Linked DNA regions of Homo sapiens: all the other regions are linked to region 1. The links come from fine-mapping of genetic effects on gene expression. A gene starts in region 1. Each other region holds a variant in brackets. All regions are shown on one strand. Distances are between the middles of the regions.

The links.
Region 2: its variant is fine-mapped to the expression of FES in whole blood (TOPMed, PIP above 0.99).
Region 3: its variant is fine-mapped to the expression of FES in whole blood (TOPMed, PIP 0.98).
Region 4: its variant is fine-mapped to the expression of FES in whole blood (INTERVAL, PIP 0.97).
Region 5: its variant is fine-mapped to the expression of FES in ovary (GTEx, PIP 0.95). The same link has a PIP of 0.9 or more in lung.
Region 6: its variant is fine-mapped to the expression of FES in blood mononuclear cells (TOPMed, PIP above 0.99). The same link has a PIP of 0.9 or more in monocytes and whole blood.
Region 7: its variant is fine-mapped to the expression of FES in macrophages (Nedelec 2016, PIP 0.95).

Annotation. Positions count from the first base shown.
Region 1 is chr15:90,882,311-90,886,384 of GRCh38, forward strand. It overlaps FES (FES proto-oncogene, tyrosine kinase), which reads left to right and starts at 2,194. Exons shown (of 19, transcript NM_002005.4): 1 at 2,194-2,234; 2 at 2,727-2,948; 3 at 3,102-3,275. The coding sequence starts at 2,736. FURIN (furin, paired basic amino acid cleaving enzyme) reads left to right here. Exons shown (of 16, transcript NM_002569.4): 16 at 1-1,147. RefSeq lists enhancers at 1,243-1,372, 2,910-3,339 and a silencer at 1,770-2,279.
Region 2 is chr15:90,663,451-90,667,524 of GRCh38, forward strand. The region is part of intron 2 of CRTC3-AS1 (CRTC3 antisense RNA 1); the gene reads right to left. It overlaps LINC01585 (long intergenic non-protein coding RNA 1585), which reads left to right. Exons shown (of 3, transcript NR_120371.1): 3 at 905-1,504. Among named protein-coding and RNA genes, the nearest start is that of LINC01585, 5.3 kb to the left of the region's middle. RefSeq lists enhancers at 1,308-1,357, 1,398-1,657 and a silencer at 1,838-2,217. The variant T/C (reference allele first, on the strand shown) is at 2,373.
Region 3 is chr15:90,628,153-90,632,226 of GRCh38, forward strand. It overlaps CRTC3 (CREB regulated transcription coactivator 3), which reads left to right. Exons shown (of 15, transcript NM_022769.5): 11 at 1,082-1,380. The region is part of intron 3 of CRTC3-AS1 (CRTC3 antisense RNA 1); the gene reads right to left. Among named protein-coding and RNA genes, the nearest start is that of LINC01585, 30 kb to the right of the region's middle. The variant A/G (reference allele first, on the strand shown) is at 2,492.
Region 4 is chr15:90,821,135-90,825,208 of GRCh38, forward strand. No RefSeq gene overlaps it. Among named protein-coding and RNA genes, the nearest start is that of FURIN, 45 kb to the right of the region's middle. The variant A/G (reference allele first, on the strand shown) is at 2,391.
Region 5 is chr15:90,946,859-90,950,932 of GRCh38, forward strand. It overlaps UNC45A (unc-45 myosin chaperone A), which reads left to right. Exons shown (of 20, transcript NM_018671.5): 10 at 1-56; 11 at 938-1,032; 12 at 1,284-1,425; 13 at 1,796-1,936; 14 at 2,458-2,585; 15 at 2,796-2,862; 16 at 3,296-3,409; 17 at 3,642-3,757. Among named protein-coding and RNA genes, the nearest start is that of RCCD1-AS1, 5.6 kb to the right of the region's middle. The variant C/T (reference allele first, on the strand shown) is at 1,604.
Region 6 is chr15:90,806,495-90,810,494 of GRCh38, forward strand. BLM (BLM RecQ like helicase) reads left to right here. Exons shown (of 22, transcript NM_000057.4): 20 at 2,643-2,765. Among named protein-coding and RNA genes, the nearest start is that of FURIN, 60 kb to the right of the region's middle. The variant G/A (reference allele first, on the strand shown) is at 2,206.
Region 7 is chr15:90,844,515-90,848,588 of GRCh38, forward strand. All of the region lies in intron 2 of LOC105370969 (a long non-coding RNA gene), which reads left to right. Among named protein-coding and RNA genes, the nearest start is that of FURIN, 22 kb to the right of the region's middle. RefSeq lists enhancers at 325-941, 699-818. The variant CTT/C (reference allele first, on the strand shown) is at 1,597.

The DNA.
Region 1 (4,074 bases):
CTCCAAGGGCTTCTGCACCCTCCACCCTGTCCCCCAGCTCTGGTGAGTCTTGGCGGCAGCAGCCATCATAGGAAGGGACCAAGGCAAGGCAGGTGCCTCCAGGTGTGCACGTGGCATGTGGCCTGTGGCCTGTGTCCCATGACCCACCCCTGTGCTCCGTGCCTCCACCACCACTGGCCACCAGGCTGGCGCAGCCAAGGCCGAAGCTCTGGCTGAACCCTGTGCTGGTGTCCTGACCACCCTCCCCTCTCTTGCACCCGCCTCTCCCGTCAGGGCCCAAGTCCCTGTTTTCTGAGCCCGGGCTGCCTGGGCTGTTGGCACTCACAGACCTGGAGCCCCTGGGTGGGTGGTGGGGAGGGGCGCTGGCCCAGCCGGCCTCTCTGGCCTCCCACCCGATGCTGCTTTCCCCTGTGGGGATCTCAGGGGCTGTTTGAGGATATATTTTCACTTTGTGATTATTTCACTTTAGATGCTGATGATTTGTTTTTGTATTTTTAATGGGGGTAGCAGCTGGACTACCCACGTTCTCACACCCACCGTCCGCCCTGCTCCTCCCTGGCTGCCCTGGCCCTGAGGTGTGGGGGCTGCAGCATGTTGCTGAGGAGTGAGGAATAGTTGAGCCCCAAGTCCTGAAGAGGCGGGCCAGCCAGGCGGGCTCAAGGAAAGGGGGTCCCAGTGGGAGGGGCAGGCTGACATCTGTGTTTCAAGTGGGGCTCGCCATGCCGGGGGTTCATAGGTCACTGGCTCTCCAAGTGCCAGAGGTGGGCAGGTGGTGGCACTGAGCCCCCCCAACACTGTGCCCTGGTGGAGAAAGCACTGACCTGTCATGCCCCCCTCAAACCTCCTCTTCTGACGTGCCTTTTGCACCCCTCCCATTAGGACAATCAGTCCCCTCCCATCTGGGAGTCCCCTTTTCTTTTCTACCCTAGCCATTCCTGGTACCCAGCCATCTGCCCAGGGGTGCCCCCTCCTCTCCCATCCCCCTGCCCTCGTGGCCAGCCCGGCTGGTTTTGTAAGATGCTGGGTTGGTGCACAGTGATTTTTTTCTTGTAATTTAAACAGGCCCAGCATTGCTGGTTCTATTTAATGGACATGAGATAATGTTAGAGGTTTTAAAGTGATTAAACGTGCAGACTATGCAAACCAGGCCCAGTCTCCAGTGTGGTACCGTTGCTCCTGCATCGCAGCTGAGGATAGGGGGCCAGTTAGGCCTACACAGTGGCCTGCCTGCCTGGATGTGGGCCCAAGTCAGAAGGCCAAAGTCCTCCAAGGGGCGGGAGGATGCGCCAGCCCCTAGTGGAGGAGCTGGTGCCCCTGGGGTGGGGCTGGTGACCCCTGGTCCTCAGGAGCTGAGCACTAAACTCCCAAAGTCCTGGTTTCCAGCAGTGTGAAGAACTGGGCCTATTGTGTCTTCCTGGGCTGAAGTGATCTGGTCGCCACAGGCTATAGGGCTGAGGCCTAAGGTGGAGGGAGGCCTGACTGAATCAAGATGACTTCTTGTGGGGAGCCTGAGTCCCAAATGGAAAACTCCACGCCTGTCCGCTCCCCAACCCCTGCCCCTTGATTTCCCCAGGTCTCCCTTGGGACAGGAAGCCCCTGCCTGGGGGTAGGAGGATGGGGACAAAACCACTAGGATCTGTATCCGAGAAGCAGTCTCTGTTCGGGATATTTACTTGGAAATTTTATTCAAATGGAAGCTGGCGCCTGAGCCTCTCCTTAGGGAATTCCGTGAGGTGGGGAGGGCTGGGACCAGGGTTCCCTCTTTCTCTTCTGCGGTGGCCCTGGCCTGGTGCTAGGACTGCGCGCCTCCCCTCAGTACCCGCGGACACCCTGGGCTTCCCTGGGCCCAGCATCTGCCTGGGGCCTCGCCCTGGGCTCCCCCTCCTGACCCCCACCTTGCGCCCCTTCCCGGTGTTCCCGGGGCGCTGCCGGGCCCTGGGGCCTGCGGGGCGCGGGCGGCTCTTGGCTGGGCCATTCTTTCCCGGCCCCCTCCTCCCTTCCGTTTCCGTGGCCGTGCGGCCGGCTAGAGGCTGCGGCCCAGCGCGGAGCAGGGGGGCTGGCAGGCGTCGGGGCGGTCGGGCCGGTCCCGCCCGCCCCTTCCCCTCCACAGGCCCGCCCCGGGGCCTGGGCCAACTGAAACCGCGGGAGGAGGAAGCGCGGAATCAGGAACTGGCCGGGGTCCGCACCGGGCCTGAGTCGGTCCGAGGCCGTCCCAGGAGCAGCTGCCCGTGCGGGTACCTCTAGCCCCGGGGCCTGGAGGAGCGGTGGGAGCTGGGGGCGCGGCAGGCAGGGGCAGAGCAGGCGTTCCGAGGGCCAGAGACCCACCCAGGTGGGGGTAGGGGCCGCGGAAGGGCGGGGATGGCCGCAGGGGCAGGGCTCAGGCTGTGGGCGCCTGAGGCTTCAGCTGGGGCAGGCTTGGCCTGTCGAGGACCTGGGCAAGGGTGTCCCTGTAAGGGGTGGTGGGTGGAAGGGCCTGGGGAGGGAGGCTCCAGGTTGGCTCCTGTTCCCGAACGTGCGGAGGAGACCCTGACGCTAAGGAAGCAATGAGGGCCAGTCCCCAGGCCAGGCTGCTGCTGGGTACCCATGGCTGCGTGTGAGCGAGGCAGGACCCCACCTCCTCCCCGTCTGCAGTCCATCCTGACCCTACAGTCCCCAGTCTCCTCGTCCCATGCCTCCGTCTCCAGCTGCTGCCTTGCCTCCAGGGATGGCCCCTTTTCTGTCCCCAGAACAGCACTATGGGCTTCTCTTCCGAGCTGTGCAGCCCCCAGGGCCACGGGGTCCTGCAGCAAATGCAGGAGGCCGAGCTTCGTCTACTGGAGGGCATGAGAAAGTGGATGGCCCAGCGGGTCAAGAGTGACAGGGAGTATGCAGGACTGCTTCACCACATGTCCCTGCAGGACAGTGGGGGCCAGAGCCGGGCCATCAGCCCTGACAGCCCCATCAGTCAGGTGGGTCTCTATGGGACTCTGGTGGGTGCTGGCTGTATCTGCCTTCTCCTTCCTCTCCTGGGGGCCCTCTGGGGCAGTGGCTGGAGATCTGGCAGGCCAATGCTTGGGAGCCATTGTGCCCCCCTCCCTGCCTCCCCCATCTGTGCTGTATAGTCCTGGGCTGAGATCACCAGCCAAACTGAGGGCCTGAGCCGCTTGCTGCGGCAGCACGCAGAGGATCTGAACTCAGGGCCCCTGAGCAAGCTGAGCCTGCTCATCCGGGAACGGCAGCAGCTTCGCAAGACCTACAGCGAGCAGTGGCAGCAGCTGCAGCAGGAGCTCACCAAGGTGAGCGGGCAGCACTGGGGCTTCGGTCATTTCTGTCTAAATTTTGAGCCTCGAAGGGGTTGTTTTGCACAAGAGGCCCTGGATTCACTGGGGAAGTGTAAGTCCCTGACCGCAGGCCTGGCTTGCTCTAACCTTGATGCAGCTTCCTCTCTTCCTTCCCCTACGTTGAGCTGGCTTGCAGCAAGGCCTCTCTGTGCTTTTTCTGTGCCTGGGCAAAGTGCTGGGAGTGTAAGGATGAGTGACCGGTCACGTGCCTGGGAGAAGCTCAGAATCGGTACTCGCCTCCACACTGTGCCATCTGGCTCTGGGTTCTGAGAGTCAGGGAGAGGAATGAGGGTCAGTCTGTTTGCCTTCGACCTAGGCAGCCTCCTCTCAGGGCCCCAGAGACTGGGCAGCAGCATGGCCCCCCGAAGGTCGAGGATTCGGGCCGTGAAGTCAGCCTGCCTAGGTTTGAATCCCACCCAGCTCCTCAGTCTAGAGGCTGTGTGATTTGGAACTATTTATCTGGGAGCCTAGTGCCCCCATTCAGTGTGCTGGTCACCCTCCCTGCACCACACCCCTTCCTCAAGTGCAGAGCCCAGCCTTGCCATGGACCCACAGCGGCCCCTGGTGGCCACCCTGGCCCCATTCCTCGCCCCAAAAGATCATCTGATTCAAGGGTGGGCCCATTTTTATAAAGTTTTGCTGGAACACAGCTATGCCCTTTTGTTTTCATATTGTCTGTGACTACAATGACAGAGTTGAGTAATTGTGACAGAGGCTCTATGGCCTACAAGCGTAAAATATTTATTTACTATCT
Region 2 (4,074 bases), 220 kb before region 1:
TTCTGAGGGAGATTAGACAGGGACAGTGCAGGGGGAACTGGGTGCTTCATCATATCAGATTGTCCCTGGAAGCGGAAATAAATAGGCTTACAGGAAATTGGATTATTAAGCAGAAGATCAACAAGAGAAACCTATGTGGCAAGTGAGGGAAATTAATGGAGAGATGAAAAGAAAACAAGGGAAAATGCCAGGCATTTAGGATAAAGTGTGAAGATATAGTATGAGGGAAAAACACTTTAAGTTTCTGGATAAAATAAATCAGGTGGAAGGAAATCAATAATCAAAAACTTGTTCTCTCTCTCACTCACACCACACACACACACACACACACACACACACACACCCCATTGTAAAATCCTTAAGGACAAAGAGCTTGTCTATTTTCTTCACTGCTCTCTCCCCAGAACTTAAAACAGTGCCTACCTAGCATATAGTAAGCACTCAATAAATATTTGTCAAATAAATGAATGCAAGACTTTAAAATGAACTGAGATGGGTCATCTTGTACCAATTAAAACGAGACTACTGACCCTAAGCTATCTCTTGGCGAAACTCTTAAACTTGGTACAAAAATAAAGACTTCTGGCCAGGCGTGGTGGCTCACACCTGTAATCCCAGCACTTTGGGAGGCCGAGGCGTGTGGATCACCTGAGGTCGGGAGTTCAAGACCAGCCTGGCCAACATAGTGAAACCCAGTCTCTACTAAAAATACAAAAATTAGCTGGGTGTGGTGGCGCATGCCTGTAATCTCACCTACTCGGGAGGCTGAGGCACAAGAATTACTTGAATCCGGGAGTGAGAGGTTGAAGGGAGCCAAGATGGCCACTCCAGCCTGGGCAACAAGAGTGAAACTCCGTCTCAAAAATAAATAAATAAATAAAGACTTCTCCCAAATTTCATGCAGAAAAAATTCAAACTTAGATGATTTCCGAAGATCTTAATAATCAGGACAACCGTGAACTTCTCATGCAACCGTCAATGCCTGAGACAATGGAGTGAAAGCTACCAGATCCTTAAGAGAAAAGTGTCCCCCAGGACTCTTAAAGCCACCAGCCCTGATGTTGGCCACGGGAAAAGACAATCAAGGAAAATCTCCGACCTTCGGTGAAATGCAGAGACTAAGGGACCCCTGTGCTGCGTGTGATGCGATTTTGAGAGAAAAAAAAAAAAAAAGGCCAGGTGTGGTGGCTCACGCCTGTAATCCCAGCACTTTGGGAGGCCCAGACAGGAGGATCCCTTGAGCTCAGGAGTTAGAGACCATTCTGGGCAACATGGCAAAACCCTGTCTCTACAAAACAAAACAAAACAATACAAAACAAAACAAACAGAAAAATAGCCAGGTGTGGTGGCACGTGCCTGTGGTCCCAGCTACCCTGGAGGCCTAGGCGGGGAGATCGCTTGAGCCTGGGAGGTCGAGGCTTCAGCGAACCAAGATCACGCCACTGCACTCCAGCCTGGGCCACAGAGCAAGATTGTCTTAAAAATAAAACAAAACAAAAACTAACGGAGCCCTGAAAAGGGAGCGCAATTCATCAATCCGCTGACGGTGATGGGCCCCCTGGCCCGGTGCAGCGGACCCTTAGGTCCTGGTGGGGGAGTCGGTCAGTCAATGCATGGGTGAGCAAATGAGTGAAGCAACGCGAGCACAGCGCTGGCCCGGATCTAACTTGGCGGTGACAGCCCAGCCCCGAGCTGGACATGGCAGGCCCCTCGGCCTGGCCGTTGCCTGAGAACCCTAGGATCACAGCGTTGGGCCGGAGTGGGACAGGGCCGGGTAGCGTCCCCCGACAGAGCTGGGTCAGGGCCTTGTTGTGGCCGGGGGCAGGCCCGGCAGCTGAAAGCGTAAGACCCCCGGAGCCCGGCACAGCGCTCCTCACCACCGGGAAAGGCGGCTGGGCCTGACCGGGCTCCCGCATCCCCCCACCCCGGAGCGTGCAGCCGCCCCAAACCCCCAGCGGCCTCCGGCTTCCAGGTGAGCAGCACCGGAAGGGAGCGGCGCCGCGTCCTCACCGCCGCGGGGGGGGCTCCCCAGCCGCGTCCCCGCCGCTTCACGCCCTCCGCGTGGAAGGACGGGGGCCCGGGGACCCCTGCAAACGGCTGAGACCCCAAAGCCCGGCTCCTCTGCCCGGCTGTCCCTCCCCGGAGCTCCGGCCGCACGGCCGCTTCCGGCACCGAGGACGCCCCGGGCTCCAGCGTTCAGCCTGCGTTTCTGGACACCCGGGATGCGCAGGGGGTTGGACAGGACCGCCCCAAACCTGCGTCGTGGGGCTTCGCCCTCCTGAGATCACCCAGGCAGCCTGTGCGCGGCCCCACCACAGCGCCTGAGGCGGCACCGCCTGAGCGCGTTCAGAAAGTAGGCAGTACTTTTATTT[T/C]TATTCTTATTCTGAGACAGGGTCTCGCTTTGTCGCCCAGGCTGGAGTGCAGTGGAGCGATCTCGGCTCACCACAGCCTCGAACTTCCGGGCTGAAGCCATCCTTCCGAGTAGGTGGGACTACGGGCGCACGCCACCACGCCCGGCTAATTTTTAAACTTTTTGTAAAGATGGGGTCTCACTACGTTGCTCAGGCTGGTCTTGAGCTCCTGAGCTCAAGCGATCCTCCCGCCTTGGCCTCCCAAAGTGATGAGATTACAGGCGTGAGCCACTGTGCGCGGCTGGTAGTACTTTTTGTACCTTGGGGACAAAAATAAAAACCCAGGCACTTAAGTGGCACTCCTACAGCAGCAGTGACTTAATAACTGGAGATAGAAAAATAAAAAAAAATAAAAAAAAATACTGGTGTCTGAACAAAGAGACATACTTAGAAAATTGTGTTATACTGACTGACATGCCTAATTCCCATCCCTTGTGGGGCGTGGGGGGCGGAGCACTTACTCCTCACCCCCGAAACCCCTCAAAATGATAAAAATAAGTGAGCAAAACAGACCCAAAACAGCAGCCCTAGCTCCCATCATTCCCAAGCAGTTTGCTGACTGACTCACCTGGCATTTCGTGGATGCAAAGAAGAGCCCCTTCCACCAGGTGAAGAAGAAAAGGGGGTCTGGGCACTATGGCTCATGCCTGTTATCCCAGCACTTTCGGAGGCTGAGGTAGACGAATCACTTAAGGTCAGGAGTTCAAGACCAGCCCGGCCAACATGGTGAAACCCCGTCTTAACTAAAAACACAAAAAAATTTGCCGGGCATGGTGGCACCTGAGGCAGAAGAATTGCTTGAACCTGGGAGGCGGAGGTTGCAGTGAGCCGAGATGGTGCCACTGCACTCCAGACTGGGCAACAGAGTGAGACCCTGTCTAGAAAAAAAAAAAGGAGACGAGGAAGGAGAAGAAACACGTGGTTTTAGGGGGGTTTATCTGAGGGTGGCCAGGCAGCTCCTGGGAATCTGCGCTGAGGAGCAGCCAGGCCTGGGGGCAGGGATGTCCAGGGGGAGCCAAAGCAGGCCCAGCTTGCCTTCCTTTCTGTCTGCGCCTCTGTTGCTCGGTGGCATCTTTTTTCGACTGTGTCCCTGTTTCTGTCTTTCCATCTTGCCATCACTTGAATCCTGTTTGACTCTGTCTCCAACTGTCCCTGCCTCAGGACAGAAATCTCTTCTCCCTGTTTCCCCAGCTCACCTACTTTTCCCCTCTCCCCGCTGTGCAGAGCTGCTCCCTCACCTCTGCTGAAACACGTGGGTCTTTCCATGATCCAAACAAGTTTGGTGATTACACTAACTGACCCTGTCTCTGGATGTCCCCATCCAGATCCCCAGGGCAGACTGAGCAATGGGCTCAGTCTCTGGGGCACTTCCCCACGGGGCAGCTGCCCCCTCTGCCCTGTGGTTGTGTGAGCACGTGGGGTTGGAATGGGGACACAGTCCACTCTTGGGAGTGGCAGTGAGTGTGAGAGTTCTCAGCTAAAGGGCAAAACCTGGGGACACACCTCAAAAAAAAGGCTTCTATTTAGGGCAGTGAAACTACTCTGTATGATACATCCATACTCTGTATGGATGCATGTCATTGTACATTTGTCCAAACCCACAGCATGTTCAACAGCAGAGTGAACCCTAATGTACGCTGTGGACTCTGGGCAATGATGATGT
Region 3 (4,074 bases), 250 kb before region 1:
CTTGCAGTGAGCTGAGATCATGTCACTGCACTCCAGCCTGGGTGACAGAGCGAGACTCTGTCTCAAAAAAAATAATAATAATAATAGTGATAATAATAATTTTGCCAGCTGCTGGATTTTTGTCATTTCTTCCTTTTCGTAACTTTTATCAAACACTTAAATTTTTTGTCAACACGAAACAACACATAGTTCTGCTTACCCCACCTGCTGGTACAAGAAAGATGGGCTGAAGGTTAAAACGTAGGTATTGCCAGTTGAGATACACACAGCAGCAGCAGCCGAATAATTGATTCACTGGGCGAACCTGCTCCATGCCAGGCCCTGTGCCAGGTGCTGAGGATCCAGCAGGGCATAGGACAGGATCCCCAGTTTCTGGGAGCTCATGCCCTAGCAGCCTATGCTGCAAAGATCTCTCTCCCAAATTTCCTTGCTCATGATCAAATTCACCCCTGTCCCCCAAATAAAGCACCAGCAAAAACTTCCTTTTCCCTGAGTTGGTATAGACTGTGATGAACAATTTCCTGGGAACCAGAAAATCAAAGAGGGACCCTGGGGTGGGAGATACAGGGAAGTGTCCCTTCCTGTGACTCCCTAGTGTGCTAAGGGTAATTAAAGACCACCAAGACAGCTCCCCAAGGGCCATGACTCGCCGTGGAAGGATGTTCTCCAAAGGTAGCAGGGGATGCAGGCAGTGTGCTTGGGACAGAGACCTTCCGGGGCTCTAAACAGAATTTGTTGTACAGCCCTAGGGTCCTTTCCCTGGGTCTGGGCCGAGCACCTGGAATATTTGCCTCTGTTACCCCGGTTTACCTAGTTTTGCTCACCTAGGGGTTGTTGACGTGATCTCCCTCCTCATGGGAAAACATCGTTGTCATCTTTGTGGCCCCATCTCTGTTAGTGCAGGGGCATCTTTTCCTTGCCATTGGTGCATCGGATGCAGTCCCTGTAGGAGAGCTGTCCAGGAGCTCCTTTACCTACAGAATCATCATCGCATGTGACAGTAGACAGTTTTCTTTCATTTTTGGAATACAAAAGATTTGGTCTGAAATTATAAGTAACTTGTGAATTTGTTGTCTTCCAGGTCTCCAGAGTTCTCGGAGTAACCCCTCCATCCAAGCCACGCTCAATAAGACTGTGCTTTCCTCTTCCTTAAATAACCACCCACAGACATCTGTTCCCAACGCATCTGCTCTTCACCCTTCGCTCCGTCTGTTTTCCCTTAGCAACCCATCTCTTTCCACCACAAACCTGAGCGGCCCGTCTCGGCGTCGGCAGCCTCCCGTCAGCCCTCTCACGCTTTCTCCTGGCCCTGAAGCACATCAAGGTTTCAGCAGACAGCTGTCTTCAACCAGCCCACTGGCCCCATATCCTACCTCCCAGGTAAACACACACAGACAGACCAACCACTACAGTGAAACAGACTGCAAGATATAGGAAGTGCATTCCTCCTCTTTACTATTTTGGGTTACACTCATTATTACACCAAGCACCCATGAGGTCTCAAGTGCAGTCTGTTCGCTCTTATATGTGAAATCAGAGCAGAAGTGTCAATAATGCAGAATGAATTCATGATTTTCTTTTCTTTTTTTGAGAAAGGGTCTCACTCTGTTGCCCAGGCTGGAGTGCAGTGGCACAATCGCGGCTCACTGCAGCCTCACCTCCCGGGCTCAAGCGATCTTCTCACCTTAGTCTTCGGAGTAGCTGGGACCACAGGCATGCACCACCATACCTGACTAATTTTTTGATTTTTTTGTAGAGACAAGTTCTCGATATGTTGCCCAAGCTGGTCTCAAATGCCTGGACTCAAGCCATCCTCCCAGCGTGGCCTCCCAAAGTGCTGGGATTACAGGCATGAGCCACTGCACCCAGCCTAATTAATGATTTTTTATTATAATAATAGCAGATTTGCTGTGTTGATTACTCTTTAAGCAAATGTTGAACAATCTGTAGTCACTAACTCACAAACTTGGGGTTGAGAGGAACGGTAGGATATAGAGAATGCCATCCAGGTAAGTCTAAGGCAACTGAGGGAAACCAGGTTAGGATTTCAAAGTTGGCATGGAAAATCAGTCATTGACTCTCTAAGTACATTAAGCCATAGGGGAAAGCCAAAGAAAACATTTAATACCTTCCTGAAGCTTTGATAATGAATTAGACCTCTTCCCTAATTGTCTACAGATTTGAGAAACAATACTTTTATTGTTCATGAAATGCTAAGTATGTTGAGGATTATATCTCTTATAAGGATGAAAAGAAGTCTGTTGAGAAAGAGGCACATTTAAAAGTCACCCACCCATACAAAAAATGGAAAAATTAGCTGGGTGTGGTGGCACACGCCTGTAGTCCCAGCTACTCCAGAGCGGAGGTGGGAGGCTCACTTGAGCCCAGGAGGTCGAGGCTGCAGTGAGCCAAGATAGCCTCACTGCACTGTAGCCTGGCAACAGAGTGAGACCCTGTCTCAAAAGAAAAGAAAAGCCCATTATAGAAACAC[A/G]GGGGTTGAAACATCCTATAAATTCTAAACTCAGAGGTGGTTCTCCTTATACCATAATCATCGAGGAATGTGTTTTCAACCTTTTGTCACATCCTCTGTCTATTACAGCATCATTTTTTTTTTTTTTTTTTTTTTTTTTTTTTTTGAGACGGAGTCTCGCTCTGTCGCCCAGGTCGGACTGCGGACTGCAGTGGCGCAATCTCGGCTCACTGCAAGCTCCGCTTCCCGGGTTCACGCCATTCTCCTGCCTCAGCCTCCCGAGTAGCTGGGACTACAGGCGCCCGCCACCGTGCCCGGCTAATTTTTTGTATTTTTAGTAGAGACGGGGTTTCACCTTGTTAGCCAGGATGGTCTCGATCTCCTGACCTCATGATCCACCCGCCTCGGCCTCCCAAAGTGCTGGGATTACAGGCGTGAGCCACCGCGCCCGGCCTATTACAGCATCATTAACTACTCACCACCTCGCCATAAATTAATGATTTAGAAGGAAGAGTTGACAGAACACAACGGAGAGTTAGAGGATCTTGTTATTGGTCACTCTTTACCAATTACTAGCCGTGGCGTGTTGATCGTATGAGTGATCTCTTTTGGGCGAGGGTGAGAGGACATTTCATAATTTTTAAGTCTCACTCTGTCGCCCAAGCTGGAGCACAATGGCACGATCGCGGCTCCCTTGCCTTGAATTCCTGGGCCCAAGTGATCCTCCTGCCTCAGCTGGGATTCTTCAAGTAAATGTGACTACAGGCCCATGTCACCACACCCAGCTAATTTTTTTAATTTTTTTGTAGAAACAGGGTCTCCCTGGGCTGGGTGTGTGCCTCACACCTGTAATCCAGCACTTTGGGAGTCCAAGGCAGACGGATCACTTGAGGGTAGGAGTTTGAGTCCAGCCTGGTTAACATGACGAAACCCCATCTCTACTAAAAATACAAAAATTAACCGGGCATGGTGGCACACGCCTGTAATCCCACCTACTCAGGATGCTGCGACGTGAGAATTGCTTGCACCCTGGAGGTGGAAGTTTGCAGTGAGCCAGGATTGCACCACTGCACTCCAGCCTGGGTGACAGAGTTACTCTGTCTCAAAAAAAAAAAAAAATTAGAATTAAAAAAAGAAAAGAAAGAAATAGGGTCTCCCTATGTTTTCCAGGCTGGTCTTAAACTCCTGAGCTCAAGTGATCCTCGCACCTCAGCCTCCCAAAGGGCTGGAATTAGCCAGTGTGCCTTGTGCCAGGCATGAGCCACTGTGCCCTGCCATAATTTTTATTTTTTTTTAGAGACAGCGTTTCACTCTGTCACCCAGGCTCGAGTGCAGTGGCGCGATCACAGCTCACTGCAGCCTTGAACTCCCTGAGCTCAGGTGATCCTCCCACCTTAACCTCCCAAGCACATAGGACTACAGGTGTATACCATCACACCCGACTAATTTTTGTATTTTTTTTTTTTTGTAGAGATGGGGTTTCACCATATTGCCCAGGCTAGTCCATAATTATTGTTTTCGTGGTTCTTATGTTATTGAATTACCTTTAATTTTATTTTGCAAGATTATTTTATAAGATCTAAAAGTATTCTTGCTTTTTAGCT
Region 4 (4,074 bases), 61 kb before region 1:
TTTTCTTCTTTTTTTTTTTTTTTTTTGAGACAGAGTCTCACTCTGTCACCCAGGCCAGAATGCAGTGGCGTGGTGGCATGATCTTGGCTCACTGCAACCTCCGCCTCCTGGGTTCAAGTGATTCTCCTGCCAGGTAGCTGGGATTACAGGCGTGCACCACCACATCTGGCTAATTTTTGTATTTTTAGTAGAGACAGGGTTTCACCATGGGGGCCAGGCTGGTCTCACACTCCCCACCTCAGGTGATCTGCCCGCCTCAGCCTCCCAAAGTGCTGGGATTACAGACGGGAGTCACCATGCCCAGCCTAGGTTTTCTTTTCCTTTCTGTTTTTTATTTTCGTTGCTGTTGTTGTTGTTTGAGATAGTCTTGCTCTGTGGCCCAAGCTGGAGTGCAATGGTGGGATTCTGGCTCACTGCAACCCCCGCCTCCTGGGTTCAAGCAATTCTCCTGCCTCAGCCTCTCGAGTAGCTGGGACTACAGGCGCGGGCCACCACACCCGGCTAATTTTTTGTATTTTTAGTAGAGATGGGTTTTCACCATGTTGGCCAGGCTGGTCTTGAACTCCTGACCTCTCAGGTGATCCACCCGCCTCGGCCTCCCCAAGTGCTGGGATTACAGGTGTGAGCCACCGTGCCTGGCCTAGGTTTTCTTTTGCTTGTGTACCAATGTTTTTGGCTGGTTGGCGTCTTGTTTGTGCTGAAATAGCAAGCCAGTTTTCCTCACTTTGGAGCTGCATTGTCTATCATGTGAAGATGTTCATAACCACCAGTGTCTGCTTCTAGCTCTTTCCTATCCTTTGTTTCTGGAGTTTACTTGTGTGTGAGGAAGGCTTTTGTGGGGACCAAGGTACATGGAGCAGTTGGGAGGTGAAAGTTTGTCACTGGGTCCTACCTGTGCAGAACGTCAGTCCCAGCCGAGAAAGCAAGGGCCAGGGCAGTAGTTCTCAAACTTGTGTTAGCCTCAGTCACCTGGAGAGCTGGTTGTGCCATGGCTTCCGATGCAGCAAGTCTGGAGTGCGCCCCAGAGGTGTGCATTTCCACCGGGTCTCCTGGTGGTCCCGATGCTGCCAGCCCCAGGTGAATACAAACCACAGCTGCCGAGAATTTTAGCACTGAGGTCTTGGGCAAGGCATTCTCCTCTCCTTCATCCTTGGTTTCCCATCTGCAAAAGTGAGGGAGTAGGGTGCAGTGGCTCACACCTGTAATCTCAGCACTTTGGGAGGCCAAGGTGGGAGGATCACCTGAGCCTAGGAGTCTGACACCAGCCTGGGCAACATAGCAAGACCCCGGTCTCTACAAAAAAATTTAAAAATTAGCCCAGCTGGTAATGTGCTTCTATAGTCCCAGCTACTCAGGAGGCTGAGGCAGGAGGATCTCTTGAGCCTGGGGAAGTTGAGGCTGCTGTGAGCCGTAAGCCATGACCATACCACTGCACGCCAGCTTGGGCAACAGAGTGAGACCCTGTCTCAAAAAAAAAAAGTGAGGGCATTAGACTCCGTGATGGCTGTCACCTCCATCCTCAAGTTGGACAAGACTGTCGGGGTGGGCTGGGGATCTGTGGGAGGGAGGGTGTTTGAGAATGTGGAAGTGGAACAGCCTTGCACGGGAGCTGTTTTCAGGAAAGGGACTCATGACAAAGCCAGGGTTCTAAGCCCCTTCCAACACCAAAGGGCCTCTTAGAGAGAGACTCAGAACTTAAAGGGAGACTCGGCAACCAGGAAGCAAGTAGCAAAGCATCACTCCAAGCAGGCATTTTGCAGTGTATGAGAGGCAAAGGAAACCTCCTTTAAAACTCTGGAAACAAGCATAAACTGATATTTCCCAGGCCCTGCCAGCCTGGGAGTCAAATGAGGTCATGTTACCACCCAAATCTGCCTGAGAACAGAGTCCTGTCTCCCTGCCGGGCCAGGCAAATGCCACTTCAAGATACAGTCCGTTGAGAACCCCTAGACTGGGACCTTAAGCTGCAACGTGTGATGAAGGCTTTCTAGAAAAATGCAATTGCAGGGTTGGTCTAGAGCCCGCTTTTCTTGCCTGGGCCCCAGCAGGATCCAGTGGCCTGAGCGGGGAACAGATTCAAGTCCCAGAACAGGATGGGGGACAGCCTCACCTACCAATTTCCTTTCCATTCTTTTTTTTTTTTTTTTTTTTTGGAGACAGGCTTTCGCTCTGTCACCCAGGCTGGAGTGCAATGGCGCGACCTTGGCTCACTGCAACCCCTGCCTCCTGGGTTCAAGCGATTCATGTACCTCAGCCTTCCAAGTAGCTGGGACTACAGGTGCCAGCCACCACGCCCAGCTAATTTTTGTATTTTTAGTAGCGACAGAGTTTCACCATGTTGGCCAGGCTGGTCTTGAACTCCTCACCTCAGGTGATCTGCCCGCCTCAGC[A/G]TCCCAAAGTGCTGGGATTACAAGCATGAGCCACCATGCCAGGCCTGCAATTTCTTAGACTATTGAATGGCCCTGGAGTCAGATTGCTTGGGGTCAAAGGCCACTTTTACCACCTGCTGTGTGACCTTCAGCCCTTGAGCAAGTTATTTAACTTCTCTGTGCCTCAGGGAGCTCATAACAGCACTATACTGTGGGGTGGTGCCAGATCTGTCTCATAGACCCTGGCCAACGGATGAAATGAGTTCTCAGACACAGGCATACAGCATAAGAGCAGCTGGGTGACTGCCTGGCTCAAGTGGCCAGAGAGCAGCCCCAAGAAGCTGGAGCTGCTTGCTTTTATTCAGTGCAGGCACAATGTGGAAAACCTGGAGCCGACACGACCTGCAGGTAACTGACAATTACTGTGGCCAGGCACGGTGGCTCACGCCTCTAATCCCAGCACTTTGGAAGGTCAAGGCAGGTGGATCATGAGGTCAGGAGTTCAAGACCAGCCTGGCCAAGATGGTGAAACCCCGTCTCTACCAAAAATACAAAAATTAGCTGGGAGTGGTGGCACGCACCTGTAATCCCAGCTACTCGGGAGGCTGAGGCAGGAGAATTGCTTGAATCCTGCCGGGGTAGAGGTTGCAGTGAGCAGAGACAGTGATACTGCACTTAAGCCTGGGTGACAGAGTGAGACTCTATCTCAAAAAAAAAAAAAAGGTATTGTTCCCCTTTCAGGGAACCTCACACCCGCATGATCAAAGGTCAGTTCCTGGACAACATAAACAAACAAGCCTTTTAAGATAAATTCCCCCACACTCCCTTGTACCTACTCCTTGCCCTCTGCCTCAGGGTTATAGAACAGCTGCCTTCAGTTATTCTCCCCCAGGGCTCTGCAAAACCTTCTGACCTTTCGGAAGGTTTGCATCCTTTCCCTATAGTTTTTCCCACCACTCTGACAGATCCCCCACAGGGTCGACTGGGGGATTATGAAGACTAATAGGATAATGCCTGCTCAGCCCATAACGGAGTGTCTGGATCTCAGTGAAGGTTATTGTACTGTAATACGTAGACACTATATGTACTCATTGTTTGCCGCATATATTTGTGCAGAAGTTGATTGGTGAATAAACAGGACATCGTTTTCACTCAGTGGGTCTCAGCCATTCTCAAACTAATCCTTTTATGGAATCAGTCTCAAAAAAAGAAGCCTTCTTCAGGCATGGCTACACCCAGCTATCCAATCATAATGTAAGCATCCAGGTTTTGGAGCTCTAGAAATTGGCAGAACAGGTAGACAACACCCCATAATATAGGTCTCAATCCAGGCTCTAGGAACCCCTGGAAAATCCTGAAATAGATGTCAGAGGGTATCTAAACCCCTCAAGTGCATGTATTATTCTTGTGTGTCTCTGCAGATTTCTGGGAAAGGGACCACCATCTTTCTCAGGTTGTCAAAGGAGCCAGCAACCCCCGAAAGTTGTAAGATTCTGCCTCAGGGAAGATGATGCAGGCCTCAGCAGGTGCCCTCAACAGCACAGACACTCCCAGGGACACCCCGGGCACCCCAGGCACCAAAGCACTGGGGCAAAGATGAGAGTGGCTCACTCCACATCTCCTTTGCTGAGAGCCAAGCCCTCTCCAAAGCCAAGAGAAAACAACAAAATCGGACGGCAGTGCACACTCAGAAGCATGAAACCCT
Region 5 (4,074 bases), 65 kb after region 1:
TGAAGGACCTATATAAGTGCAGCGAGAAGGACAGCATCCGCATCCGGGCGCTAGTGGTGAGACGGTGGGCCTGGGGTGGGTGGGCAGGCAGCCAGGCAGGGGTCCTGGTCCAGCCGGTGTTGCAGGGTGTGGCCCCAGCACACTCCAGATGAAAATAAGGAATACTGTAATGCCAAAAAAATTAGCTAGGCTTGGTGGTGCATGCCTATAGGTCCAGCTACTTGGGAGGCTGAGGCAGGAGGATCACTTGAGCTCAGGAGGTTGAGGCTGTGGTGAGTCACGCATGTCACTGCACTCCTGCCTGGGCAACACAGCAAGACCCTCTCTAAAATAAATGGATGAATGAACGAGATTCTGGGCTTTCTTGTGGTGAGAGACATCGGCATGGCTCCTCCCTCCATGGGGCTTAAGACTGGGCCTGCAGGGGTCATGCAGTGTTCCTGGGAGCTGGTGGTTTGGGGGTTTGGGGACTACCTGGCCCTCCATGAGCCTGTTGTGGCTGTGCACCCTGTGGAAGCTGGTCTTCCTCCCTGGGGCACTCAGTCCTGGATTTCTCCATCCCATAAGGATTTGGCTGTGGCTGAAGCACCTGTCCTCTCCCCACATGCCTCTCAACTCCACCTGCAGAGGGCTTCTTTGTGCGACATGGAAGGAAACAGAGCCATTCTCAGTGTGGCCTGGGAAGGGGTGGGGCCCACGACTGTCCAGCGGCCAGCGCATCAGTGTCTGCAGATGCTGTGTCATGCGGCCACCCCAGTAGCTGATTTTCTTGCCACATGCTCTAGGTGGTGGTCTGGAGGGAGAGGGTGCTGATTTGTCTGTGTAGCTTCCAGGGGGCCATGGCAGAGTGCCAGGGAGGGAGTCCAAGCCAGGTGTGGAGGAGCTCAGCTCCTGCCTCCTTCCCCAGAGGCCAACTGGTCTTGCCCTCTTCCTCCAGGGACTCTGTAAGCTCGGTTCGGCTGGAGGGACTGACTTCAGCATGAAGCAGTTTGCTGAAGGCTCCACTCTCAAACTGGCTAAGCAGTGTCGAAAGTGAGTCATCTGGCCTTGCTGTGGTTCCCCACCTGTGGGGTAGATCTCAAGACACAGGGGTCTGGGTGGGGGTTGGGGCCTCCTCCGTCCTGCTCTCTGGCTCAGGCAGGGGCTGCAGTCTGGATCCTGGTACGTGAACTGCTTCTGTACATTGAGGGGATGCCCAAACCCTTGGTTTTTCCCCCTTGGCCTTGGTGTACCCCTCCGTACCCCCAATCCTGAGGGTCGTCCACTATCCTGCGTGTCCCCAGGTGGCTGTGCAATGACCAGATCGACGCAGGCACTCGGCGCTGGGCAGTGGAGGGCCTGGCTTACCTGACCTTTGATGCCGACGTGAAGGAAGAGTTTGTGGAGGATGCGGCTGCTCTGAAAGCTCTGTTCCAGCTCAGCAGGGTAGCTCTGTGGTTCCTGCCGTCAGCCTGGGGACACTGTCTAGGATTAGACCTTACCAGGCTTTCTCGGCAGGGCTTGGCCAATGGGGTCTTTTGACCCCAGGGAAGAGGGCTGGTGGCTGAGTGGCTGCTCTGTGTAGTGTGGGCATGTTGGCCAGCACCAGTGGTGTTAGCAAGGA[C/T]GTTCTTCTTGGAGGAGCTGGGGAGGTCAAGTTTGTAAGCTCCCAAAGTCTGGGGCCTGGGAGTTTCCCGAATTCATCCTGTACCCAAGGGTCCCAGCTGAGGGTGGAATTGGGGGCCTGGGCCTGGGCAGCATTTATCTGAGTACTGCTCTGCCCCGGGATGCCCATGTGAATTCCTCTGTGTCCTGGCAGTTGGAGGAGAGGTCAGTGCTCTTTGCGGTGGCCTCAGCGCTGGTGAACTGCACCAACAGCTATGACTACGAGGAGCCCGACCCCAAGATGGTGGAGCTGGCCAAGTATGCCAAGCAGCATGTGCCCGAGCAGCACCCCAAGGTGAGGGGCCGCCAGAGGGGCTAGAGGGTTCCCCACCATGGGGACAGCTAACCCAGGGCATCCACAGCAGAACAACCTCCCTTTTTTTTTTTTTTTTTTTTTGAGATGGAGTCTCACTGTCTCCCAGGCTGGAGTGCAGTGATGCGATCTCGGCTCACTGCAAGCTCCGCCTCCCGGGTTCATGCCATTCTCCTGCCTCAGCCTCCCGAGTAGCTGGGACTACAGGTGCCCGCCACCATGCCTGGCTAATTTTTTGTATTTTTAGTGGAGACAGTGTTTCACCGTGTTAGCCAGGATGATCTCGATCTCCTGACCTCGTGATCCGCCTGCCTCAGCCTCCCAAAGTGCTGGGATTACAGGTGTGAGCCACCGTGCCCAGCCAACAGCCTCCCTTTTAAGCCAGTTTGTTTCCTTTTGTCTGGCTGTTTTATTTCCCAGTTCCTCAATTACTGCTGTGAGAAGGGTCCCCCTTTCTCTGTGAGTCAGCCTAGGCCCCTCTCCTAAGCTGCCTCCTCCCCCAGGACAAGCCAAGCTTCGTGCGGGCTCGGGTGAAGAAGCTGCTGGCAGCGGGTGTGGTGTCGGCCATGGTGTGCATGGTGAAGACGGAGAGCCCTGTGCTGACCAGTTCCTGCAGAGAGCTGCTCTCCAGGTGAGCCAGCCTTGGTAGGAGCCAACCTTTCCCAACTCCTGAGCCTCAGGGCTGCAGATGTGGCTCCAGAGGGTGCAGGTTCCAGTGCTGTGGGCCTCTTAGAGCGACGGGGGCTGCCTGCGTGGCTGCCGTCTTTGCTGAGCCTAGGAGTGCAGCGTCTGCCTGCCAGAGTCCCAGAGCTGCCTGCCCACCACCGCCTTCTCCCCACAGGGTCTTCTTGGCTTTAGTGGAAGAGGTAGAGGACCGAGGCACTGTGGTTGCCCAGGGAGGCGGCAGGGTAAGCTGGTTTACACACCCCTTCCTGATGGCTGAGCCATCAGCCTATAAAACATGACTCAGCAGCTGCCACGCCAGAGCTGGGTGTTAGATATGGAACAGAAAAACATTAATGGCCAGAGGAACACCGTCCCGCTGAGAGAGTGACGCGGAAGCAGGCAAGCTCCTTGGCCCCTCCACACTGGTGCCTGTGAAGGTCCTAGGCTCTACTGTTCCTTTGTCTCATTTACCCCCATGGCCCTGGTGCTCAGCACAATCCATGTCCAGCCCTTATTAGGTGTTTCAGGAAGTGTTTGGATGCAGAGGGTCTGCACAGGGAGTCAAGCCTGGGGAGAGGGAGGAAGGTGAGGGTGGCACGGTCAGGGCTGGGGAGCCCGATGGTCGGGGTCTTACTCCCAGGGATGTCCTGAGCAGTGACGGGCTTGTTCCTACAGGCGCTGATCCCGCTGGCCCTGGAAGGCACGGACGTGGGGCAGACAAAGGCAGCCCAGGCCCTTGCCAAGCTCACCATCACCTCCAACCCGGAGATGACCTTCCCTGGCGAGCGGGTACGTGTCTTCCTGCCCCGGCCTTTCCACTCCCTCTGTCCCTGATGGCCTGTGGGCTGGGCTGTAGCTCCCCTTTGGGACCAGCAGGAAGTTTCAGCTTTGTCAAGGCCTGGGGCAGGGAGGACAGCCTGAGACAGCAGTACTCTCTTGGGGGTGGGCTTCTCCCTGCAGGGTTGGTGGGGCTTGTGGGGGCTGCGGCAAGTACCCCTGACAGGTGGGGTGCACATTGCAGATCTATGAGGTGGTCCGGCCCCTCGTCTCCCTGTTGCACCTCAACTGCTCAGGCCTGCAGAACTTCGAGGCGCTCATGGCCCTAACAAACCTGGCTGGGATCAGCGAGAGGCTCCGGTAAGGTCCCTTGGGATTGCGGGGCCTGGACCAGGCATCGGGATTCGGAATATCCCCCACAGCAGTTTACACATTGGGAAACACTCCTTGGTCATGGGCTTCTGTGAGCCTCACAGTGACTGCTCCGCATCATTAGAGAGGAGGCGACAGGCCAAGAGGCAGCACGGCACGGCAGACTCTAGAGTCAGACTGCCTCGCTTCCCTGATTGCAAATGGGCAACCTCAAGCAAGTTACTTAACTGCTCTGTCTCAGTTTCTCCCTCTGTGAAATGGGATGATTATAGTACCTACCTCATGGCATAGTGATGAGGAGAATA
Region 6 (4,000 bases), 76 kb before region 1:
AGCGAGACTCCATCTCAAAAAAAAAAAAAAAAAAAGTCTGCAATGAAGAGCTAGTTTCCTTATGAAGAGATTATGTTTTATGCTTCTTTGAATCTGGATCTAGCACACTGCTATGTCTTTAGTTAATAAATACTTACTGGTCTGAGTTATTTCCATGGGCAGATAGCCCAACCCAGAATTTCAGTAGTAGAGTTCCTGGAAAACAACGTCTTCATATAGTTGGCCAGCTGGGCTATATTACCTTCCATATTCTTCTTCATAAAATCTCATAATCATCACCTTCTCTCTTCTTCATTCCCTCTCCTACGATAATCGGTCATTACAATATTTCACTGACTCTAAGATGCCAACTATATTAAGATACTGTTACTTTATGGACTATTAAGGAAGAAAAAATTCTGCTAATTAAACTATGACACAGTGCTTTTATTGAAAAAATTGTGTTTTACTGATTTAGACATTGATTTTTATTATCCACAGCTGTGTGCCTGTATGAAAAATACATATAATCAAATTACCGTAGGTACTTATAAAAGTTCACATTCAAAGCCTGACTCTTCTGAGTCACTTTTTGACTGAGTCGTCCATGTCTTTGTTTTTCCCTATGTCATCACTAACATTCTCATTAGCCATAAGGCATTTCCAGAGTGTTCCACTATTTTCCCCAGGATTTAATCGAAATCTCTGTTATCAGTTCTGTTTTGAAGGTGGTGGTTTCTTGATGATACCAGAAGGTGTCAACAGAAGGTTGTACATCTCTCAGTAACAAAAATGTAGTGCGGCCTCATCTACTTTGGGCATCTTCTTTCTTAGGTCACGTAAAGCACTTGGTTGTACTTGCGAGAAACTATGGAATTGGGGGCCTGTGTCCTCAGAGACAAATAGTGCCTGGGTTTTTTTTGTTTTGCTTTGTTTTGTTTTTTTGGAGATAAGATCTTATTCTGTCGCCCAGGCTGGGTGCAGTGGTTGAACACAGCTCACTGCAGCCTAGACCTCCTGGGCTCAAGTGATCCTCCTACCCCAGCTTCCTGAGTAGCTGGAACTACAGGCATGTACCACCATGCTTGGCTAGCTTTTTTATTTTTTTGCAGAGACAGGGCCTCACTGTTACCCAGACTGGTCTCATACTCTTAGGCTGAAGCAATCCGCCCTGTCTCAGCCTCCCAAAGTATTGGGATTACAGGCATGAGCTACCACGCTCAGCCAGATAGTGCTTTTCTTAATACCAAATGTATTCCCTGCTACTCTGTTTCAGAACTTTTCTGCATTCACAATCACTTTTTTAATGCTAATCACAGTATAGTCTTTTTGAAGACATGTCATGGCAGTTAGACTCAATACATGAGGTACAAACAGTGCAGTGACTTTGTTGACATGCTGACAGTACTAATAGCTATGACTAAGTTCTCACAAGCATGAGCAGTAACAACCGCAAGGCAGCTGCCATTTAGCCATCAGCAGTTCTAAGACATATCTTGACCTCAGGAATGCTAAATTGTGAAAAGGTGTGTGTCTTAGAATTGATGAAATTTGGTATTTTATGATATGTTATTTCTAGGCGATTAGTGTAGTTTCTTAACTGTCCTCCTTACCTCCAGCTGTGAATGTGATGTACATTTTAATCTTTCAAAACCTAGTAAAACTACAACAGCTTCCCAGATAAAGTATACATTTTATCAAGGGTCTACATTTCTTCCTGCCTCTCCTACTTTATCTTTCATTAAACCCCCTTCATAAACCTTCTGTTCTGTCCACAGTCTCTTGCTTTTCCTCTAAACATGGGAATGATGTGAAAATCACAGATGGGAAAGGATTTGAAATCCACTCTTTGCTCAGCTCAAATACATAGGAATGGTTACTCCCTCACTACCCAGAGCCAGTGCATCAGTCAGTCCTACAGAGCCAGCCTCCAAAACTCACCCAAGCTTGCTTCACTGTGTCTCCACTACTGCATTCCAGTTCACTCCATCCTCACTCGCTCCTGCAATGGCTTCCACCAGGCTCCCGGATTCTACTCTTTCCTTTACAGTCAAGTTCTTAAACAGCAGCCAGGGTGGCCTTTAAATGACAGGCTTGTCTAGCTGCAAGACTGATATGCGACCTCTATGCAGAGGACTCAGCTGGCTGCTTGTTGCCTCAACCCACATGGGGAAAGAGTGGAGGAAGAAAAGTTTGTGCTGGAGGAAGTAACAATTTGGTTATGCC[G/A]TCTAGGGTGGGGTGTACAAGTCTGGAGTGCAGAGAAGAGGCTGGAGCTGGAAATAGAAATGCAGCGTTCTCAGTAAAGAGAGGGCACACCAGTCTCAGCTAGATGAGTACTGGCCATGGGAACAGTGGGCAAGAGCAGATCTGCTCCACTCCACGCACATGGCACAGGTCCCACCCTCAGCTTCCTCCTGCCCTGGCTCTTGCCCTTGCTCTGCCCTGGCCTATGCCGCTGGAATTGGATGGTGGGTTCCTGCCCTCTGTGCCTGTCTGCTGCCTCTGAGGTGCTAACTTTGCCTTTTACAAAATTGGCCTGTGTTCCCAGTACCCTGCAGTTAGTTGGCACTTAGCAGACGTGTGCTGAATGCGTGAATGAGCCTGAATTCAGTGGGTTTTCTATGGGTGATAATTTAAATTCCTAATTTTATGCCTTTGCACAGAATCTTTATCTTCTGATCCTGAGGTTTTGCTTCAAATTGATGGTGTTACTGAAGACAAACTGGAAAAATATGGTGCGGAAGTGATTTCAGTATTACAGAAATACTCTGAATGGACATCGCCAGGTTAGTACACAGCCATGTGTGTTCTCTAAAAGCCTGTTTAATGTGAAGCGACGCGTCTCACTGAATTAGAAGGATGCAGTTGTGTGAATGCTTCCTACACCTCGTCACACTGACATCCAAGTCAGCCCCCAGTGGTGTGCCAGTCACCTCTGAGAGGACACTAGTGCTTATGCCCCCTGTGAGTGCCAGTTCTGAACTTACTCATAGGATCCAAAAGGGGACCTTTGGGCCCAGGGGTTGCTGGTTCCCGTAATGCAAGTGCTCAAGGGATCAGAGCCCTGGGTACCAGTTCCAGATCTGCCACCACGTCATGCTGTGTGGTCTCTAGCAGGCCACCAATAGCCTCTTTGTGAATCAGGTTCCTCCACCAAGGAAGGAACATGTTATCTGACAAACATGTCTAAAGATAAAATTTAAGACTAGTGTTTAAATGTTTTGGAGAAATGAGCATGCAGCTAGAATGTTATTATTGTTAGTCATTGATAGAACCTGCCTGAGTGCATCATTATCAGACGTTCCCGGAGTCACGTTAGGCCTGTCCTGTGGCACTTCTAATCATGAGCTTCATCATCATTACAGCTTTAGAAATCATTGACCTGGGGGAAATGAGAACAACAAAGCATTTTGTTGTAGGAAATATTGAGAGCACAGAAGTCTTCTGCCCTCTGATAACATCACCACGTAATAGGACACAACAGACAGGCCCGGTTCAGTGTTCTTCCTGCTTCCAGACAGGCAGTGTGGGGGTCTTCCCAAGGATGATGGAAATGATGAGCAGGATGAGATAGTTCAAGTTCTCTCTTTACCTAGTCGCTTTTTTTTTTTTTGACAGAGTCTCACTCCAGGCTGGAGTTCAGTGGCACAATCTTGGCTCACTATGCCTCCCAGATTCAAGCAATTATCCCACCTCAGCCTCCCCAGTAGCTGAGACTACAGGCATGCACCACCACACCTGACTTATTTTTGTATTTTTTTGGTAGAGTTGGGGTTTCACTATGTTGGCCAGGCTGGTCTTGAACTTACGACCTCAAGTGATCCACCTGCCTCAGCCTCCTGAAGTGCTGGGGTTACAGGCATGAGCCACCACACCTGGTCAGGTTCTCCTAAATTCTTCTATATGGTAATTAGTCCATTAAAAGCCTTGTTCCGAATACATTTTGACAGTGAGCCAGGGTTGGAGCAGCCATGGTGGAGTCCTGTGCCCTCCATGCTGCTCCTGTAGGGTGGCCTGTAGG
Region 7 (4,074 bases), 38 kb before region 1:
AAAATACAAAATTAGCTGAGCGTGGTGGTGCAGCTCTTCGGGAGGCTGAGGCAGGAGAATCGCTTGAACCCAGGAGGCGGAGGTTGCAGTGAGCCGAGATCATGCCATTGTACTCCAGCCTGGGCAACAAGAGTGAAACTCTGTCTCAAAAAAAAAAAAAAAAAAGAAAGAAAAAAAAGAAAAAATAATTCTTTAAAACTCTTTTTTAGAGACAGGGTCTCACTCCATCACCCAGGCTGGATGTCATCATAGTTCACTGTAACCTTGAACTTCTGGGCTCAAGCAATTCTCCAGCCTCAGACTCCTGAGTAGCTGGGACCACAGGCGCATACCACCACGCCTGGCTAAAACTGGTTCCTTTTTTTTTTTTTTGAGACAGTGCCTTGTCCTGTCCCCCGGGCTGCAGTGCAATGGCACAAACACTGCCCACTGCAGCCTTGACCTCCTGGGCTCAAGCGATCTTCCCCTACAGCCTCCTGAGTAGCTGGCACCACAGGCACGTGCCACCATGCCTGGCCAAATTTTTTTTTTTTTTTTGTAGGGATGGAGTCTCACTATGTTGCCCAAGCTGGTCTCAATCTCCTGGGCTCAAGCCATCCTCCTGCCTTGGCCTCCCAAAGTGCTGGGATTAAAGGCATGAGCCACCGTGCCCAGCCTAAAAATGGTCTTGATTCAATGAGTGAGTAAATGAAGCCTGTGCCCAGGGCCTGCCAGGCCCCCTGGGGCTGCCCACAGGGTAAACACAGACCCACACGGAGCCCCACTCCAGGCCTGGTCGAAAAAAATGCTGCTCCAGCTGAAGGCTTTCTCAGAGAAATGACTCAGCCTGAGCACTCAGATGCAACTTCCACGTTTTATGGACTGAAGGTGCTTTCATAACAGCTGGTGATGATGAGCCAGAGGCGGGCTATAAACAGAGCGGTGATCTGGTCCTGAACACTCAGGTCTCAGCCCCCACCCACAAGCAGGGCCTCTGAGGCTGTGGCTTCTCCACACTGGTGCTGCTTTGTGCTGGCAAATAGCACAGGCCCCCAAAATGACCTGGAGGCTCCTTAACTGAGGAGGCAGATGAGTGACAGGGCCAGACCTGCAGCCTCAAGGGCCTGGCTGTGCCCTCCCTAGCTCCCTTGGGCCTGGGAGCCTTCCATGAACCTGTGGCCTGGGACCAAGAGCATGGGGGGCCTAGTGATGTGCCTGGTGGGGAGCGGGGAGTGCTGCCAGCAATGACAGTCCCGCTGGGGGGACGTGGTACAGACTCACTGAGACACAGAACCCTGTGAGCAAGGGGGGTTCACTTAATCCTCCCTGAGGACTCAGACAGGTGGGCTGCAGGCAGTGGGGTAGCCTTGCCTCTCACTCATGCCCACCCACCCATTTGCTCATTCATTCAGACAAGCGTGGATTGAGTATTTTCTTTTTTTTTCTTTTAAAGACAGGGTTTTGCTCTGTCGCTCAGGCTGAAGTGCAGTGGCATGATCTCAGCTCACTACAGCCTCATCCTCCCAGGCTCAACCGATCCTCCTGCCTCGGCCTCTCAAAGTATTGGGATTACAGGCGTGGCCCACGCCTGGTGAATTGAGCACTTTCTTTCTTTTT[CTT/C]TTTTTTTTTTTTTTTTTTGAGATGGAGTCTCACTCTGTCATCCAGGCTGGAGTGCAGTGGCATGACCTCGGCTCACTGCAACTTCTGCCTCCCGGGTTCAAGTGATTCTCCTGCCTCAGTCTCCCAAGTAGCTGGGATTACAGGCACCCACCACCACGCCCGGCTAGTTTTGTATTTTTAGTAGAGATGGGGTTTTACCATGTTGGCCAGGCTGTTCTTGAACTCCTGACCTCAGGTGATCCATCCGCCTCGGCCTCCCAAAGTGTTAGGATTACAGGCGTGGGCCACTGCGCCTGGCAAATTGAGCACTTTCTTTTTTTTTTTTTGAGACCGGGTCTTGCTCTGTCACCAGGCTGGAGTGCAGTGGCCCAATCTCAGCTCACTGCAACCTCCACCTCCCAGGTTCAAGCGATTATCCTGCCTCAGCCTCCAAGTAGCTGGGATTACAGGCACGCGCCATCACGCCCGGCTAATTTTTTGTATTTTAGTAGAGACAGGGTTTCACCGTGTTAGCCAAGATGGTCTCGATCTCCTAACCTCATGATCCACCCACCTTGGCCTCCCAAAGTGCTGGGATTACAGATGTGAGCCACCGTGCCCTGCCAAATCGAGCACTTTCTAAGTGCCCACCTGTCAGCGTCACCCCAGGCTTTCCCATCTCAGCCCGTGGCTCCACTCTCCTCTAGCTACTTTGGCCAAAAACCACAGAGTCATCTTGGATCCCAATTTTTGCTTCACCCCCACATCCAATCTTTCGGCGAGTCCCGTCTGCTTTACCTCGGCACATCATCAGTGCGCTCAGTGCACTTCCCAGCCACCTCCCACGCTGGGCTGCTAACCTTCTGCCAGGTCACCATAGCTACCACCAGCTCCTCCTGACCCTTTGGCCTTGGTCTCTAAAACCCATTCTCCTCTCATCAGAGTGACCTCATCCCAGCATCATTCTGACCATTTCTCATCTTAAAGTCCTCAAAAGGGTCCTATCAGATATTAACAATTTTTAAAGAAATTAAGACAGAATGGCTTTGGCATCTGGCTATTAAAAAAAAAGGGTAGGGGGGGCCGAGTGCGGTGGCTCATGCTTGTAAACCCAGAACTTTGGGAGGCCAAGGTGGGAGGGTCCCTTGAGCCCAGGAGTTCGAGACCAGCCTGGGCAACACAGAGAGACCCTGTCTTTACAAAAACAAAATTAGCTGGGTGTGGCGGCACATGCCTGTAGTCCTAGCTACTTGGGAGACTGAGGTGGCAGGATCACTTGAGCCTGGGAGGTTGAGGCCGCGGTGAGCTGAGATCATGCCACTGCACTCCGGCCTGGGTGACAGAGTGAGAGCCCATTTAAAAATGAAAAATAAAGGGAAAAAAAAGGACAGAACAGGAGTCCCGGAGACAGAACCTTGCATAAATGAGAATTTGCCGTATGACAGAGAAGCATCACCAACCAGTGGGGAAAAGATAGACTCTTTTATAAATGGCGTTGGGACAAGTGGTGATCCATATGGGAAAGTAAAATTAGATCCCCACCTAACACCACACACACAACTCCAGGTGGATTCAGGACTTACATGTGAATAACAAAATTTTAACACATTTAGAAGAAAATATAGAAGAATATTTTTATGACCTCAGGGTAAGGAACAATTTCTTTTTTAAATAAACTTTTTGTTTGATTACAACATGCATAGTGTACAAGTCATAAGGGTGCCGCTTGATGAAATTTCACAGTGACCCCAGCTGTGTAGCCAGCATCCAGATCAACAAGCGGGATGTAAGGCCAGGCACGGTGGCTCACTCCTGTAATCCCAACACTTTGGGAGGCCGAGGAGGGCGGATCAGAAGGTCAGGAGTTTGAGACCAGCCTGGCCAATATGGTGAAACCCCGTCTCAACTAAAAATACAAAAATTAGCCCGGCATGGTGGCACACACCTGTAGTCCCAGCTACTTGGGAGGCTGTGGCAGAAGAATCGCTTGAACCCTGGAGGCGGAGTTTGCAGTAACCCGAGATCGTGCCACTGCACTCCAGCCTGGCGAAAGGGCGAGAATCCGTCTAAAAAAAATAAAAATAAAAAACACAACAACAAATGGGACATAGCCAGTGCCTTCCAAAGCCCCCACGTGCCTCTTTTTTTCTTTCTTTTTTTTTTTTGTTTGAGACGGAGTCTTGCTCTGTTGCCCAGGCTGGAGTGCAGTGGCATGATCTCGGCTCACTGAAACCTCCGCCTCCTGGATTCAAGCAACTCTCCTGCCTCAGCCTCCTGAGTAGCTGGGACTACAGGCACACACCACCATTCCTGGCTAATTCTTTTTTTATTTTTAGTAGAGACGGGGTTTCACCAGTTGGCCAGGATGGTCTCGATCTCCTGACCTCATGATCCACCCGCCTCAGCCTCCCAAAATGCTGGGATTGCAGGTGTGAGCCACCACACTCAGCCTTCTTTTTTTTTTTTTTTTTTTTTTTTTGAGACGGAGTTTTGCTC